Linked DNA regions of Homo sapiens. The protein of the gene in region 3 purifies or fractionates together with the protein of the main gene of each other region. This does not show direct contact. Each region holds a gene or a part of one and is shown on either strand. Other genes may lie near its edges.

Evidence for each region.
Region 1: the proteins of TAFA4 (region 3) and AVL9 purify together in Homo sapiens (affinity purification with mass spectrometry; 2 studies listed by BioGRID and IntAct, with this or other methods). This does not show direct contact.
Region 2: the proteins of TAFA4 (region 3) and ITPRID2 purify together in Homo sapiens (affinity purification with mass spectrometry; 2 studies listed by BioGRID and IntAct, with this or other methods). This does not show direct contact.
Region 4: the proteins of TAFA4 (region 3) and HS6ST1 purify together in Homo sapiens (affinity purification with mass spectrometry; 2 studies listed by BioGRID and IntAct, with this or other methods). This does not show direct contact.

The regions. Positions count from the first base shown.
Region 1 is NC_000007.14:32,554,489-32,557,988, forward strand, and holds part of AVL9 (late secretory pathway protein AVL9 homolog), read left to right. Parts: intron 1-69; coding exon 70-108; intron 109-3,500. UniProt on the Homo sapiens protein: Functions in cell migration.
Region 2 is NC_000002.12:181,890,508-181,894,529, reverse strand, and holds the start of ITPRID2 (protein ITPRID2), read right to left. Parts: upstream 2,801-4,022; 5' UTR 2,464-2,800; coding exon 2,253-2,463; intron 1,916-2,252; coding exon 1,870-1,915; coding exon of another isoform or gene 1,866-1,869; exon of another isoform or gene 1-1,865.
Region 3 is NC_000003.12:68,884,048-68,887,547, reverse strand, and holds part of TAFA4 (chemokine-like protein TAFA-4 precursor), read left to right. Parts: intron 1-2,237; 5' UTR 2,238-2,359; coding exon 2,360-2,373; intron 2,374-3,500. UniProt on the Homo sapiens protein: Modulates injury-induced and chemical pain hypersensitivity. Ligand of FPR1, can chemoattract macrophages, promote phagocytosis and increase ROS release.
Region 4 is NC_000002.12:128,316,069-128,320,011, forward strand, and holds the start of HS6ST1 (heparan-sulfate 6-O-sulfotransferase 1), read right to left. Parts: upstream 2,801-3,943; 5' UTR 2,496-2,800; coding exon 1,969-2,495; intron 1-1,968. UniProt on the Homo sapiens protein: 6-O-sulfation enzyme which catalyzes the transfer of sulfate from 3'-phosphoadenosine 5'-phosphosulfate (PAPS) to position 6 of the N-sulfoglucosamine residue (GlcNS) of heparan sulfate.

The DNA of each region.
Region 1 (3,500 bases), on a different chromosome or scaffold from region 3:
GGAGGGGAAAAGATGAATTATAGGCGTGAGTCTCTCATTTCAATACAACATTTTTTTTTCCTTTTGCAGGTCTTAATCCTATTTAAGCTAATTCTTCTTGAAAAAAAGGTACGATCCTAAGGGATGAAAGGAAAGATGGAGTATTTAACTTTTATTCACTTTTTTTTACATTATTTCATAAAATTGAAACTAATGATAAAGTATTAAGATACTTTTTGCCTATCATTGTGGTAAGCTGAAGCACATTTTCTTGTTCTCTGCCGTAAAAATATAAATTCATGCAGCTTTTCTGTAGGTAACATACAACTCAATTTTAAGCTGACTTAAATAGAAAGGACATATTGGCTCACTTTGGATTTCAGGATTTGACTCAGTGGCTCCATAGTGTAATTAAGTGCCTAGGTTTTTTCCATCTCTTTGCTCTACAGTGCACAGTGCTAGCTTGTTCCAGGGCCTAGTTTCCCTGGTAGTATAGGGAACTGCCGACAGTAATTGGGTTATTTGCTTCCTCAGTCATAACTGCTGGCAGAAATAATACCTCCTCCTAAACAATCTAATAAGAATTCTTGGCCGGGCACGGTGGCTCACACTTGTAATCCTAGCACTTTGGGAGGCTGAAGCAGGAGGATCACTTGCGCTCAGGAGTTTGAGACCAGCCTGGGCAACATGGTGAAAGAAACCCCATCTCTACAAAAAATACAAAAATTAGCTGGGTGTGGTGGCATGTGCCTGTAGTCCCAGCTACTTGGGAGGCTGAGGTAAGAGGATGGCTTGAGCTTGGGAGGTAGAGATTACAGTGAGCTGAGATCGTGCCACTACACTCCAGCCTGCAAACAGAGCCACTGTCTCAAAAAATAACAATTAAAAAAGCAATAATTATTTCCTTCAATTTGTTTGGGCCTATTACAGGCCACACACATGGCTACTCCTGTGGCCAAATACATGTTTGCCCTGATTGGCTTAAACTTGGGTTCCTGACCACTCCCTAATACAAAGGGATGGGTTTGCCATGATTGGCTTAGTCCCAAGGCCAAATCTGACCTACTACCTATTGTTATACATAAAATTTTATTGGAAATCAGACCCATTTATTTACTTGCTGTTTATGGCTGCTTTCACACTGTAGTGGCAGAGTTGAGTAGTTGTGACAGACCATATGGCCCGCAAAGCAAAAATATTTATCTGACCTTTTAGAGAAAAAGTTCACCAGCCTTTGGTTTAGACTAATCAGGAGCCATCCTTGGATCTGGGCCAGTTTTATACACCGTATTACTGTGCCTAGTGGAGTCGGGGTTGAAAGAATGTTGGGGAGTCGACCATGCACAATATCCACTTTAGTTCATTACCTTAAAAATATTCCTTTGACCCAGTAATTCTCCTGTTAGAGATCTATTTTCCAAAATTAATCTGAATTGGACACAAAGCTCTAAGAGAGTCTATCACAGAATAATAAATTATAAGTGAGTAACTATTAGTTTATCTTGTATGTTGTATAGAATTTCAGACAATAAAAAAGATACTAAGATGTTTTTATTGTTTTAAAGATTTTCATGGCATGTTAAGTGAGAAAAGTTTGTCTACAACAAGTCAAGCCTATGATCCCATTTTATAAATGAATATATATTAATTGAAAAGGGACTGGAAGTAAAGATATCAACCTAGTTTGGTGAGAACATAGGTTATTTTTTTTAAAGGGAATATTTTTCTGTATCCTATTTTTCTATAAGAAATATATATTCCTTCAGGCTGGGCACAGTGGCTCACGCCTGTAATCTCAGCACTTTGGGAGGCTAAGGTGGGTGATCACTTGAGGTCAGGAGTTTGAGAACAGCCTGGCCAACATGGTGAAACCCCATCTCTACTAAAAATACAAAAATTAGCCAGGCATGGTGGCAGGTGCCTGTAGTCCCAGCTACTCAGGAGGCTGAGGCAGGAGAACTGCTTGAACCAGGGAGGCAGAGGTTGCAGTGAGCCAAGATCACACCACTGCACTCTAGCCTGGGTGACAGAGCGAGACTCCATCTCAAAGTAAATGAATGAATGAATGAATGAATGAGTATTCCTTCAAACAGAAAAAAAGATAAAGTTTTTTTTTTAAAAATGAACCCAGCATATTAGTGTGGTATTTCAAAAAATTTTATTTAATTTCTAAAATTGTGATAAAATACACATAACATACAATTTATCATCGTAACCATTTTAAGGTGTACAATTCAGTGCTATTAAGTACATTCATGTTATGCAGCCATCATCACTATCCAGCCACAGAACACTTTGAATTCCTTTTTATTTTTTGAGACAGGGTATAGCTCTGTTGCCCAGGCTAGAGTGCAGCGGTGTGATCATGGCTCACTGCAACCTCTAACTCCCAGGCTCAAGCAATTCTTCCACCTCAGCTTCCTGAGTAGCTGGGACCACAGTGCTGGGATTACCAGCATGAGCCACCACACCCAGTCTGTATTCCTTTATATATGTCCATTTTTTCCCCTGAATCATAATACCTTGAAAGTAATTTGTAGACATTATGGTACTTCACTCCTAAATAAATACTTCAGGATATATTTCTTAAGAAAAAGAAAATATTCCTACATAATCGGAATACCATTTTCACATTCAGGAAATTTAACATTGAGATAATAAGAGAAATCTGACATAAGTCCATTTTCAAATTTCCCCAGATATGATAATGTCCTTTGTAGCTGATGTTTTCTTTTTTTATTATTATTTAATTTTTTATTTTAAAGAATAGAGATAGGGTCTCGCTGTGTTGCGCAGGCTGGTCTTGAACTCCTGGCCTCAAGTGATCCTCCTGCCTCAATCTCCCAAAATGCTGGGATTACAGGTGTGAACCACCACACCTGACCTGATTGTTGTTTTCAGTCTGGGATCCAGTCAAGGATCATGTACTGCATTGCTAGCTCTCTTTTATTTCAAAAAGGTATTCCACCTTTGTCTCTTTTTTTGTTTGTTCTTTTCTTTCTATATTTTGTGACACTGGCATTTTAAAAATAATCAAGACTAGTGTTCTAGGGTGAGATTTGTTTGTTTTGTTGTGGCTAGTTTCAGATTAAACCTTTTTAGCAAAAATCCTACACAGGTAGTGGTGTGTCTCTGTCAGGACATGATATCAGGAGGCCCATAACTATTTGTAGTTAGTAGTATTGGTGATGTGAAGTTCGATCATTTGGTTGAGGTGGTGGTTGCCACCTCAATAGCTAATCCGTAGAATGATAAATTTCAGACATTGTGACTATCCTGTTGTTTCACAGTAGTTTTAGCATCTGTTGGTAATTTGTACCTAAATCACGGTGGATGCTAAATGGTGATTTGTCTGTTAGTACTTCTATGTTTATTAGCTGTTACTCTTTTTTTTTTTTTTTTTTTTGAGACAGAGTCTTGCTCTGTCGCCCAGGCTGGAGTGCAGTGGCGTAATCTCAGCTCACTGTAACCTCCACCTCCCGGGTTCAAGCAATTCTCCTGCCTCAGCCTCCTGAGTAGCT
Region 2 (4,022 bases), on a different chromosome or scaffold from region 3:
AAACAAAAATACAGATGCAACATATCCTAAGTCGAATCTGTGATAATATAGCCAAGATTAAAAGACTACTTGTTCTAGCTTTCCTGGATACAAATGAATGCCACTCTTGTGTAGAATAGGTGCAACTGTAGGAACAAGAAGGTAATCCATGAGAGAAGGAGCAGCAGACTACAGAATCTGCCCACATAAATCAGTATTGGCAACAAAACTTCTGAAATTGTCAGGGATTGACTGTGCCCTGGTGAATGTCAACATTTGCCTACTGCATTTGTCTCAAAAAAGATGCACTTATTTACTGTCTAATTGATAGGATCTCTTATACAATCTTAAATCCTATATGTCATTAAACTATAGTGTGATTCTTCTCTTGTTCTTAATTTTTAAAATTCTTTTGAATATGCACTTGAATTTAAACAATAAAACATTATAAATGTATTTGTAATGCTAAGCCTATTTTAAGAAACCTAAAGTAAGCCAATACTGTACTTAGGACTGTATTTAAATAAAGAGTCAGATTGGAGGCTTTAAAGGACTTAAGTAAAAGTTACAAAACAACTTCTCAAACACATTTCTAAGTGGAAACCTGAAAGATACTAGTTTTATCAGATCTCACCCAAAAGGTCTTGAACATGTACATTCAAAATTTCAAGCTTTTACATTATAGACTATTTTAGTATTTAACAATTAAATGAACCAATAGCACATTAATACAATTTCTTGATCCATACTTTGAGTGAAGTATCTAATATCTAAGGCTTATCTGAAAACTGGGAGATTGATTTACAGCTAGATTGTAAATCTGGGGTCCAAGGACTTCAAGCAGTGTATTTGCCTCTGTGCATCTTTAAACAGAAGTTATTCCATATATGTCATCATATTTCAGAAGGGTCTATGACACTTCCAATAAAGGGTACGAGTTCTGTAATAAAGAGTGTTCAATAAGGTTCCAGTCGATTCATCAAAACAAGGCATTAATATCATGGTAGCCAATATCTTGTCTGTCTTTAGAGGAGGCAAACTGGCATATGAATCACTTTCCACAACAAAACAAAACAAACTACCCTAACTCTAATATTTGAACAAAATATTAAGAAAATCTAAATTGAGAAAGCAAAAATATGCTCGAAAGCAAACACCAACAAAAGTTTAAAGGCTACATTCCTGATTTTACAACTAGCAAAGTGGAATAAGAAACAAGTACATTTTGCTGTAGTCAGATTTACGTGCAACATGATTCATCTCCTCTGTATTTTATCAAACATTTTTGTACCAGTTGCCAAAGCATGTAATTAAACAGATTTATGCAGTCTGAATGCTTTTAAAAGTTCTATTCCCTGAGAATTCCAGTGCCATCTGACAATTCCATGTTCAAGAAGTAAACTATAAGTACAAAGTTAGCTAGTTTTAATAGCTCCCCAAACAGAAACAAAATTAAAGCCCATTTAGTGTAGTTAGGTAAATTAAACTCGTCTAAAACACATTTGAAAGGAAAATGATTCCGTGCCAGTTGTACAGATGCCAAAACTAAAGCAAAACAAAATATCCTGTTCGAGATGTGAGAATTCTTTCAAATAAAAACAGAACAAATATGGCATGATTATCTGTTCTGGATTTCTGATCTCTGATGCTAACACGATGCGTGAGTAGCTCAAGTCCTAACTGTAAAGTCAACACGGTCACCAAATAATCAGCGGTCACAGCACTTCCATTTCTAATCGCTTAGAGGAGGAAGCTATCCGCCGGCTCACTTTCCGGTTTGTAGCTTACAACGGTCGCGGGACCCACAGGGACGCGGCCCGAGTGGCTCTGCTCCGGCGTCCCGTCCGCACGGATCTCCCCCGGGACGCGGGCGGACCAGGGAGCACTCACCGGCAGTCCTTGAGCCATATCGCGATCTTCTCGTTGGGCACGTTTCCTGGGGGTAGAGAGAGGGGACAGCACGTTACCACCCAGGAGCACTACGACGGCGGAGTCACCCTGGACCCTCCCAAGTAGGAAAATCTACCACGGCAAATGCAGCCTAAGCGACACGTCTCAGTGTCCCTTGGCAGGGAAATCGGATGGCACCCAGTTGTCTGTGTTGACGCTGGGGGCGCCTCGTTCAGCGCGCGCGTTTGAAGGTCGGAAGTGTCCCCTCTCCCCTCGGCCTACCGTGCCCGAGGCTCTCCCAGAACTCGTGGCAGGCGCCCAGGGCGCACGAGACTCTCCCCAGCCCACCAGCCTCCCCCCGGAGCCCGGCCGGGAGCACCGACCTCTTCCCCCCGCTGCCGGCAGCTGCGCGCCGGGGAGGTCCTCCTCCTCGTCCTCCTCCTCGTCCTGCGTCGTCGCTTCTGTGGACAGATCCTCCGTCTCCGACGCTTGCCAGGAGCTGCGGCACTTGGCCCAGGCCTTCCTCCTGCGACTCGCCACTTGCCACTCCAGTTCCTCCTCCGCCTCCGCCGACGACGACAGGGGCCGGTCCATGGCCGCACTGGGGGCTCCGCTACCCCAGCCGGACCCTGCGCGAGACAAGGCGGCGGCAGGGACCCCCGCCCTTGCTGTCAGCGCCCGGCCGGGCAGGGGGCCCCGGGGAGCTGAAGCGGGCGCCGGAGGAGGAGGAGGAGGAGGAGGGGACAGGGAGGGAGGGAGGGAAGGAAGGGGAGGGAAGGGGCGGAGGGCCGGCGCTTCACATGAAGGCGGCCGGGCGCGCGCGGGAGCGCTAGTGGCCCGAGGGAGCGCGGCTGGGAGCCGAGCGCCCGCCCGGCCCCTGCTCCCCACCCCCTGCCTGACGCGCCCGGAGCAGGCCGGCCGCTGCGCGTCTGCGCGCCTTCCCTCGGCGGCGGCCCACGCCCCCTTCCGGCCGGGGCCGCGCGGGGCGCGGTAGGGCGGGGCGCGCCCGGCGCGACGCGGAGCAGGCCAGCCCCCGACTACTGCCCGCGGAATGGGCAAGATTAGTTTGTTAATAATCTTTCCTCCTCTCCTCCTCCTCCTCCCTCACCTAAAAATAGAACGTAAGTGGGGAGGCCAAGTCTCACAAAACATCCCCCGCGAGAAAACAAGTGTCTGCTTGGGCACCCTGAAACATACACTTGAAAGAGTCGCCTGAATATAGACTCTTTAGTGTCCAAGGAATTGGGGTAAGGACGGAAAGAGGTGCTTGATTGGTGTTGCCAAAATGTAAAAACTGCAAAAGACTAAGCTTCCTGGAGTGCTACTTTCATACTTAAAGTTATTTATCGTGTTTATGTTATGAATGAAAATGAATTGTGAAAGGATATTTAATCTGGAAATTTCACATTGAAGTTGGACTTTGGTGAGGGAGAATAGAGGAAACAATTGGGACAATGTGGAGATAGTTGCTTGGATTTTGGTGAGACAGCATGATACAAGAAACAAATGATGTCAGGGTTCAAAACTTTTTAAAGCCAGCTTTGGCATTCCGTTTTGTTATGTTTAAATTCTCATTAGCAAAAATACTCAAATTCTATCCAAAACCAGACACAATGTGACAGACCTATCAAGCAGCATTGTTCCCCTAAATGTTACATCTGAACTATACATATAAGTAAGGCTTCCAATATTTTATTGTACTTGGCTATGCTCTGAAGAACAAGTTAGAACACTTTTTAAAATCTTAACGTGATTGAAAAGAATATTTTGCGTAGACAAAATATTTTAAGGAAGGAATTATTTTTCATTTGAAATTAAAATCCAGAGCATAGTAAAATTCCTAATGGAAGCATTCGAATTACAAGGTAATTAAGTGCATTGTCATTGATAGCTACAGGAAACCATAACTTTTGGAGAATTTGGAATGAAGAATGCTCTGGAGATGAAATAGTGCCTAGTTTTTGTCCAGGCATTTACACATAAGTCATAGACTACTAAAATAGCACACTGATTTTCCTGCCTTCATTCTTTCCTATCTCCTTTCTAGCGCATTGCTCTAGATTTACAATTCCAAGACATCTTCTAATGGTTTACTAATATCCCCAAGATCAAATCCAAAATCCAGACTAGCTTTCCAGAACCATCATAATATT
Region 3 (3,500 bases):
TCTGGGGTCCTGGCAGAAAGTTGTTACAAGGGAGGAGCCACCACAGAGAGCATGTACTAGGGGGCAGTCATGGGAGCGAGGCTACCCCAGAGACTCCCGAAATGTAGAGCTGCAGGTGTACAACTCCAGCCTGGGAGAGCTGCAGGCATAGGACTCCAACCCAAGAGAGCTGCTGAGTGGATCGGGTCCAGCAAAGCCACAGGGGCAGGGCTGCCCGTGGCATTGGCAACCTAATTCCTGCTGTAGCATGTCCAGGATGCAGGACATACAGAGCCAAAGGACATTATTCTCCAGCTTTAAGACTTGATGTTGTTTTACCTGTTGGGTTTTGGACATACTGAGAACCAGTTACTTCTTTTCTTTTTCTATTTCTCCCTTTTGGAATGGGAATGTCTGTTTTATGCCTGTTCCATCACTGTGTTTTGGAAGTAGATAACTTGTTTTGATTTTATAGGCTCACAGCTGGAGGACATTTGAGGTGGGATGAATCTTGAGTCTCATATCTGATTTAGATGGAACTCTGGACACTGGGCTTTTGAATTGATGCTTTTGGGCTATTGAGATGGAATGAATATATTTTGTATGTAAGAAGAACATGAGTTTTGGGAGGCCAGAGGTGGAATGTTATGGCTTGAATGTCTCCTCCAAAACTCATGTTGAAATTTAATTGCCTTTGTGCTATTGGACTTCCTAGCCCCTAGAACTGTGAGAAATAAATTTCTTGGTAAATTACTCAATTTCTGTTCTGTTACAGCAGCAGAAAACAGACTAAGACATGACAAGAAAGAGTTAATTCTTTCAAGTAAGTGCCTCAGGTACACTCTGGGAAAATATGACTGAATGAGTTACTGCTCAGCCTAAAATTAAACTCCTGGCTTCTTGTCTTGCATATGAACTATTAGGTCGCATTACTTTCCACTGATGGATCTATTTTTTTAATGAATTGAAAAAAGAATACCCAGTGGTTCCTTTTGTGTGAAGAAAATAAGAAAAATATTAGCCAGGAAAGGTCATTTTGGTTTCCAATATGTGGGGAGTTCATTATGATGAGTTCTGATGAATTATATTGTGTAGTTCTTTCTGATAGCAGAAGGTCACATCATGCCGTTGGGTGGACGTAAGGACAAACACACTTAATAAAGTTGGAGGATCTGGGAGATGAACATTTTCAAGTTGTTTTTTCTGAGCAACTTGTGTTTATACAGCTATTTAAAGCCATTTCTCTCTTGTTGAACTAATTACTCAAGGCCCATACTCTCTTACATGCAGCCCCAAAGTGGTGAGTCTTCAAATTTATCACCGAAAGTGTTCTCTAATCAAACTTGTGGAATTATCTTTGGGTTATCTAAGAGAAAAATCTCAGTTGTGCTTGGTGGTGGATTCTTAATTGGTTCTACAGGATTCTAAAGTAATTAGACTTCATTTCAAAAATCATTTTTATGTTATATTTGCAACTTGAATATTTATTAACACATATCATAATTTTTCTCTGATCTTTACCACTGGGAGGGATGTATTTAACTTAGCATCTTTACAAATGGTATAGTTTCATGTTCTGTTTTTTTCTTAAGATGTGTTTGCTTTAGGGTCATCTGAGTCCTTTTACAAATGTGTTCACTAAGTAGAAAAATCCTTTTAGGTTTATGCGTTGAGGGAATGTCAACTACAGTATTCACAAGTGTTCTTTATATTTTGGTATGGTGGATTATATTGGAAACACTTTTTCTCTTGGTGTCCTATTAATATTTTTTCAAAAAGCAACCTCATAGATTGTCTAGCATCATCTTCAGGCTTATGTCACACAAATCCAGGAATTCAGATCTTCGTGCTGGCTTTTCCACTGCTCCATGGGCTTGGGCAAATTGCATGTCTTGGGAATGCATTATCTCTAACTTCCATTTTTCCTGATGGTCAATGAAATGGGAGAGTGAAATTTGTGCATTTCAAATGATTTGGGACCCTCTGTTAAATTTTGAATACCCTTCCTGCTGCAGAAAGTTCTTTACAACTATGTGGTGTTAACTAATATGTGGCTAATTAATGACTGTAGAATTCTATATCTTTTCCTCCCTAATAGTAGGACACCTTACAACTATGGATATGTTTGGCTGTCTGCCACTTGCCTGAAACTGCAGGTGTCATGGTTAAAAACCATTATTTTGCTACTGGAAATTAGTTTCATTTTAACATTAAAATGCTAATTGATTCCTTTTTTTTTTTTGGCCTTTTTAACATAGGTCTTCTGAGCTACGATAATTTTTTGGAACGGCAGAAATGATTGGTTCTAGCAACAGATGGGAATTTGGAGTCACTCTGAAATATATCCTGGAATAAGTGTGTTTGACTAGAACCACATCTTATGAGGTCCCCAAGGTAAGATTATTTTAACGTTCACCTGGACATGATATCTTTACAAAGTATTGAGAATTTAGCAAAAGTGAGTATCCTGGAGTTGATGATCCGTTTTAGAAGCCTGCTTTTACACTTTTTGGGAATTTGGGGAAATGTTGATTTTTTCATTTTAGCTTTCATCTGTGAAATGAAAATTATTTCAGTTTGCAAAATAGTACTTTGGTTTATTCAGTAGAGGAAAAAATGAAGAAATACAAATCTATTGCTGAAGAGCTTTCTGGCCCCAACCCTACCACTCTGCCCTGGCATTTCTCTGGGGGAATGGTTGTTGAGCTATTGTTAAGTGAATACTTGTTTTAGAGACAGGGAACTTATTGCTACTAACCCAGCAACTTGTTACATAGAATTGTCCACGTAAGAAGAAGATAGATTAGGGATCATTGCCCAGGATTTGGAATGTGTGCCCTTGAGACTTTTGATTTAAGGCATTTGTTGTTGGAATCCAACCAGGAAAACAGAAACCATTCTGCTGGCTTTTTCACTGCTCTGTGAGCTTGGGTAAATTGCATGTCTTGGGAATGAATTATCTCCAACTTCCATTTTTGTCCAGTGGGAAGTGAATTCAGGAGACTGGTTATACATATGATGGGAGAGTCAGAGAAACTGAGCGGAAGATACACAGGAAGCCACTGCCATCCCCTGGCTGGGAACCATGGAAGCAGTTAGACCGTGGGGAGGCAGTGCCTAGAAGAAGGAAACTAGAGTGGAAACTAGAACCACAGTGGACCCTTCTGGCAGGAACTGGAGCCATGGTGGAGAGATGGCCACCCCACAGATCCTGCCAAAGACAGAGAAGGCGGGGAGAAATGTCCTGGCCTATCCCTTTTCCTATTCTCCAGGCTCCAGCTGTTGCGTTTCCTTGACTGAACCCAGCCAGTAACCAGCTGACCTGGGAGCCTGGGAAATGCAGCCTAGAGGGCCCTCCAGCCCTCAATATAGGGGAAGCGGGAGGAATGGATCTGAAGGCAAGACAGGCCCAGGCTGTCATATAATTCATATATTTAAAATAAACTTTTGTTTCTTTTTAATAAACTTGTTTATTTTCATTTTATAATATCACTTTCATTACTGAAGAACATCCCATCTTG
Region 4 (3,943 bases), on a different chromosome or scaffold from region 3:
CTCCACACATGCTCCCTGGGCAGGGGGAGCCGGGCCTTCCTGGTGTAGCACCTGGGGCCCCATCGGCCCCACCTGGTCCTCCCACTCTCATGGACAAACTCCAGAGAAAGGAGGCCAAGGCTCTTCACCCTGGGGACCCACAGGCGTGCGGGGCTGCAGGAAGAGCATCCTGGTTGCAATCTAGGGCTGAGGTGGCCTCTGCTGAGCAGGCTTGTTTCAAAAGCTCCGGCTTCTTGGCGGCCCGAAGCTTCCACGCAATCCTCTTAGGCTGCCGAGCTAAGTCCCTCTGGCAAAGGGGGTGACCCCCATCCTTGCACCCCCCACAGGTAGGGAGGCGTCTGTTGGTATTGGTCAGTGACCAACTCTGGGAGCCTACTGCTCTGACTGGTGGAAGGGTGGGTGGGGGCATGGCTGTGGTCCCAGGCACAGCTGAGCCTAGCACAGAGAAGCTGGACCAGGGTTAGGGGGGCCCTGCAGCAGGAACGTGCATCTGTGCAGAGCAGACTAAGTGCTGGGCCGGAAGCAATCCTTCAGGGGCCCTAGACAGGCAGCTCTGTGACCGCCAAGTGTAGAATGTGGCTGTAAGAGGCTCAGAACATCACCTCCCAGGCTGGGAGCTGCAGTGTGTGTGTGTGTGTGGGTGTGTGTGTGTACAGTTGGGGGAGGGGGGAGAAAGAAAAGTGGGAAGATGCCCCTCCAACTCTAGGACCCCAATTTCCTGACAGCCTGAGAAAGACCACAGAGCAAGGATTGAGGTCTGTGCAGGGGAGCAGTGTCTCGGACTCTGCTCAGCTCCAGGCTGGCTGGACCTTCCAGGCTCCCCAGGCACACCTGAGAGCCTACAGCCTCTGGACCCAAGAGTGCCAGCCAACACGCCTACAACCGCCCAGCCTCCTACCACCAGCCTGTCTGCAAATTCAGTCCTAAGGCAAATTTGGAAGAGAAACAAAAGGCAGACAAGAAGCCCTGCTCCTGGCCCTTCCCAGCCCAGACTTTGGGGAGAAAGGCCCCGCAGGGCATCCCTGCAGGACGAATGGGCACCAACAGGAACAGGAGGAAAATAACCCCAACTTTAACTGCTGGAAACCCAGCAGCACCCCAGGTTCCCCTACAAACGGCTTCCCAGAAGAGCTGCCCCGGCACCCCTCCCATGCTCTGTGTCCTCACGCAGCTCAGCTCTGACATGGGGCTGGGGGACCCCAGAGAAGGGGTGTGGCAGCACAGGTTCCCTGGACCAGCTCAACTACCCCCAACCTGGCTGGTAGCTTCCTGGGGAAGGTGGTCCCCCATCGGGTGGCTTTTGTTCCTCTCTCCAGGCAAGCCTGTGCCTGGAAGAATTCGGCTGGCAGGCCCCACTGGGAGGACAGGCGGTACTGCCTCCTCCCCGCCCCCAGCCCCAGGTCAACAGGGCCTTTGTTCTACCTGCACACACCGGCAGGCAGGCGGGCAGAGCCAGCCCCCTTCCCTGGCAGCTCCCCCACCCTCTGAAGGCAGGCACTCCAGGCACAGGGGCGGCACCTCACTACTCTCACTTCCACTTTTGGGACCACAGCACCGAAGCGGCACGGGGAAGCCAACACTCCAGGTAGGCCACGCACACACCCAGAAGCCCGCGTCCCCAAGTCCGGCGGGCCAGACCTCACGGCGCACAGCAGGTAAGGTGGCCCGAGGGCAGCGGGCGGGGACCCTGGAGAAAACCCGGGCGCTGCGCAGTCAAGCCGGCAGTAGGGCAGCACAAGGCAAGGAAGAGAGTGAGAGCGAGGTCAGAAAGCGCGGTGACAGCCGGCTCACCCAGAGGAGCTGGGAGCCTCGGGCGCTCGGCAGGTCGGGAGGGGTGCCGGCGAGTGGGGGCCCCCAAGAGGGCAGAAGGGGGTAGGGAAGGCAGGGCCGACCCAGTACAGCACGGCGGGCATACGGCCCGGCCTCGGGGGCGCAGCTGCGCGAGGATCCCGCCGCCCGGGCGCTCACCTGGGCGTGCGCAGCGCGGCGGAGTCGCGGCGGTCCAGCACGCCGGGCACGCAGTTGGTGAGCTCGGTCCAGTCGGCGTGCAGCCCGCAGCTCCAGCCGGTGGAGAAGCGGGAGAAGAGCCAAGTCTCGCGGCGGTTGGGCCGGTAGCAGGTGCACTTCTTCTGGCCGGGCCGGCAGTCGCACGGCACCTCGAGGCGTACGTTCTGCACGAGGTGGCGGCCGAAGGTGGTGCCGCCCGTCTTCTGGATGTGCAGGAAGACGATCACGTCGTCGCCCTTCATGTCGAAGCGCAGCGAGCGCTCCAGCTCGCGGACCGGGAAGTAGTACTTCTTCTCGTAGTGGGGGTCGGGTGTGGGGAACAGGTCCAGGTCGTCGGGCGGCGCGCGGCCGCCGGGCGCGCCCAGGCTCAGTCCTGGGCCCGCGTACTGGTACAAGATGAGCATGAAGCACACCGAGCCCGCCACCACCAGCACGAACTTGCTGGCGCGCTCAACCATGGTCCTGCCGCCGGCGCGCCGCCGCCGCATGTGTCACCATCGCCGGGGCCCGGGCGCGGGGCGCGGGGCCTGGGAGGGCAGGAGGCGCGGGCGCAGCTGCCTCCGCCGCCGCCCGCGCTCCGGCCCGGCCCGGCTACTCGGCGCCCAGGCCGCCCGCAGCGGCGCGGGCCCCGACCCTCCGCGGTGCCATGGCTGCTCCCCGCCCGGCCCCGGCTCCCCGGGCCCGACGCCCGACTCCGCTCCCGCTCGGCCCCGCTCCCGGCCCCGGCCAGCACAGCGCTCTCCGCGCCCCCAGCACCAGCCCGCTCCGCTCCACTCCGCGCCGAGAACGCTCTGCGCCGCCCCGCGCGCCGCCGCGTCTCCGCAGTCCGCCGCCGCCGCCCCGCCCCGGTCCGCCCCTGGCCCGCCCCCGTGGCGTCTCTTGCCGTCGCCGCCCGCGCCGATCCTCGGCCCCGCCTCCGGAGTGCCGGGGTTCGCCGCGGGTGCTGGGCGCGGGACCTGGGTCTGCTGCGGTGGCGAGGCCGCTAGCAGGCGGGCAGCCAGCGACTGGGAAGTGATTCCGCCCTCAGGGGAGTGGGGGACCAACCGGCAGTGCGGAGCCGAGGCGTGGGAGGCTCTCCTGGCGGGGGCCGCGGTGAGGGGGCGCGGCGGCTGGCGCTTCTGGAGCCTGGGTCCGTACCCCCTCCTCCCCAAGTCCCAGCCGCCCACGTCCCCGCAGCCCGCGCGGGAGGAAAGGCCTTGACCTTGCACGCTGGGGCGCTGAAGTTAGACGCTAGCCTACTGGGCTGCACTTCCAGGGACCAGGGCGGCGGGGGCCGCCCACCACCAGGACCGAGAGGGAAAGCGAGGCTTTCCTTTCCTGCTCGACCCCCTCACCCCTGCGGCTGGCTTTGGGACAGTGCCCCGCAGCCCCGCATTGAAGAGATGTTGGGCTGTCTGCAGAGGCCTGCGGAGCGGCTTTATGGCTTCCTCCTTGTTTGAAAAGAATATCAGACGAGGTGCATTTTCCCCCATCCATGTTTATTATACTCCAATGAAAGAGTTATAAAACATTGAGCCAATTCTTAAGAATCGTGAGTGCCCACCAAATATTCTGTCTTTCGTGGGTTGGTTGGAGAGTCCAGCGGCCCGGGCCCAACCTGGCTGCGGAGGGCTCGCTCCACGTTGGCTCGTGTGTGGGCCGGGTGGTGCGGGCTCCTCACTCGCCGCCGCCCAGCCTGGCAAGCACGCGCGGCATTCGTGGGGCGGGGGGTCCCGCCAGGTGCCCACTCACACTGCTTGGGCTCTGGCAGTACTCGGAGGCTGCAGCCCGTCGGAAGCGCAGGAGTGGGGCTGGGACCTGCCAGGATCTCACAGCTGCAGGGCCGGCCGCGGTGGGCCCTAGTGTGTTGGTTCAGGCCAGCGAGGGCTCTGGGAGCGAGTCTGGCTGCCAGGCGTGGGCTCCCAGTGTCCACGTCAAGCCCTGCCGGGGACGGGGT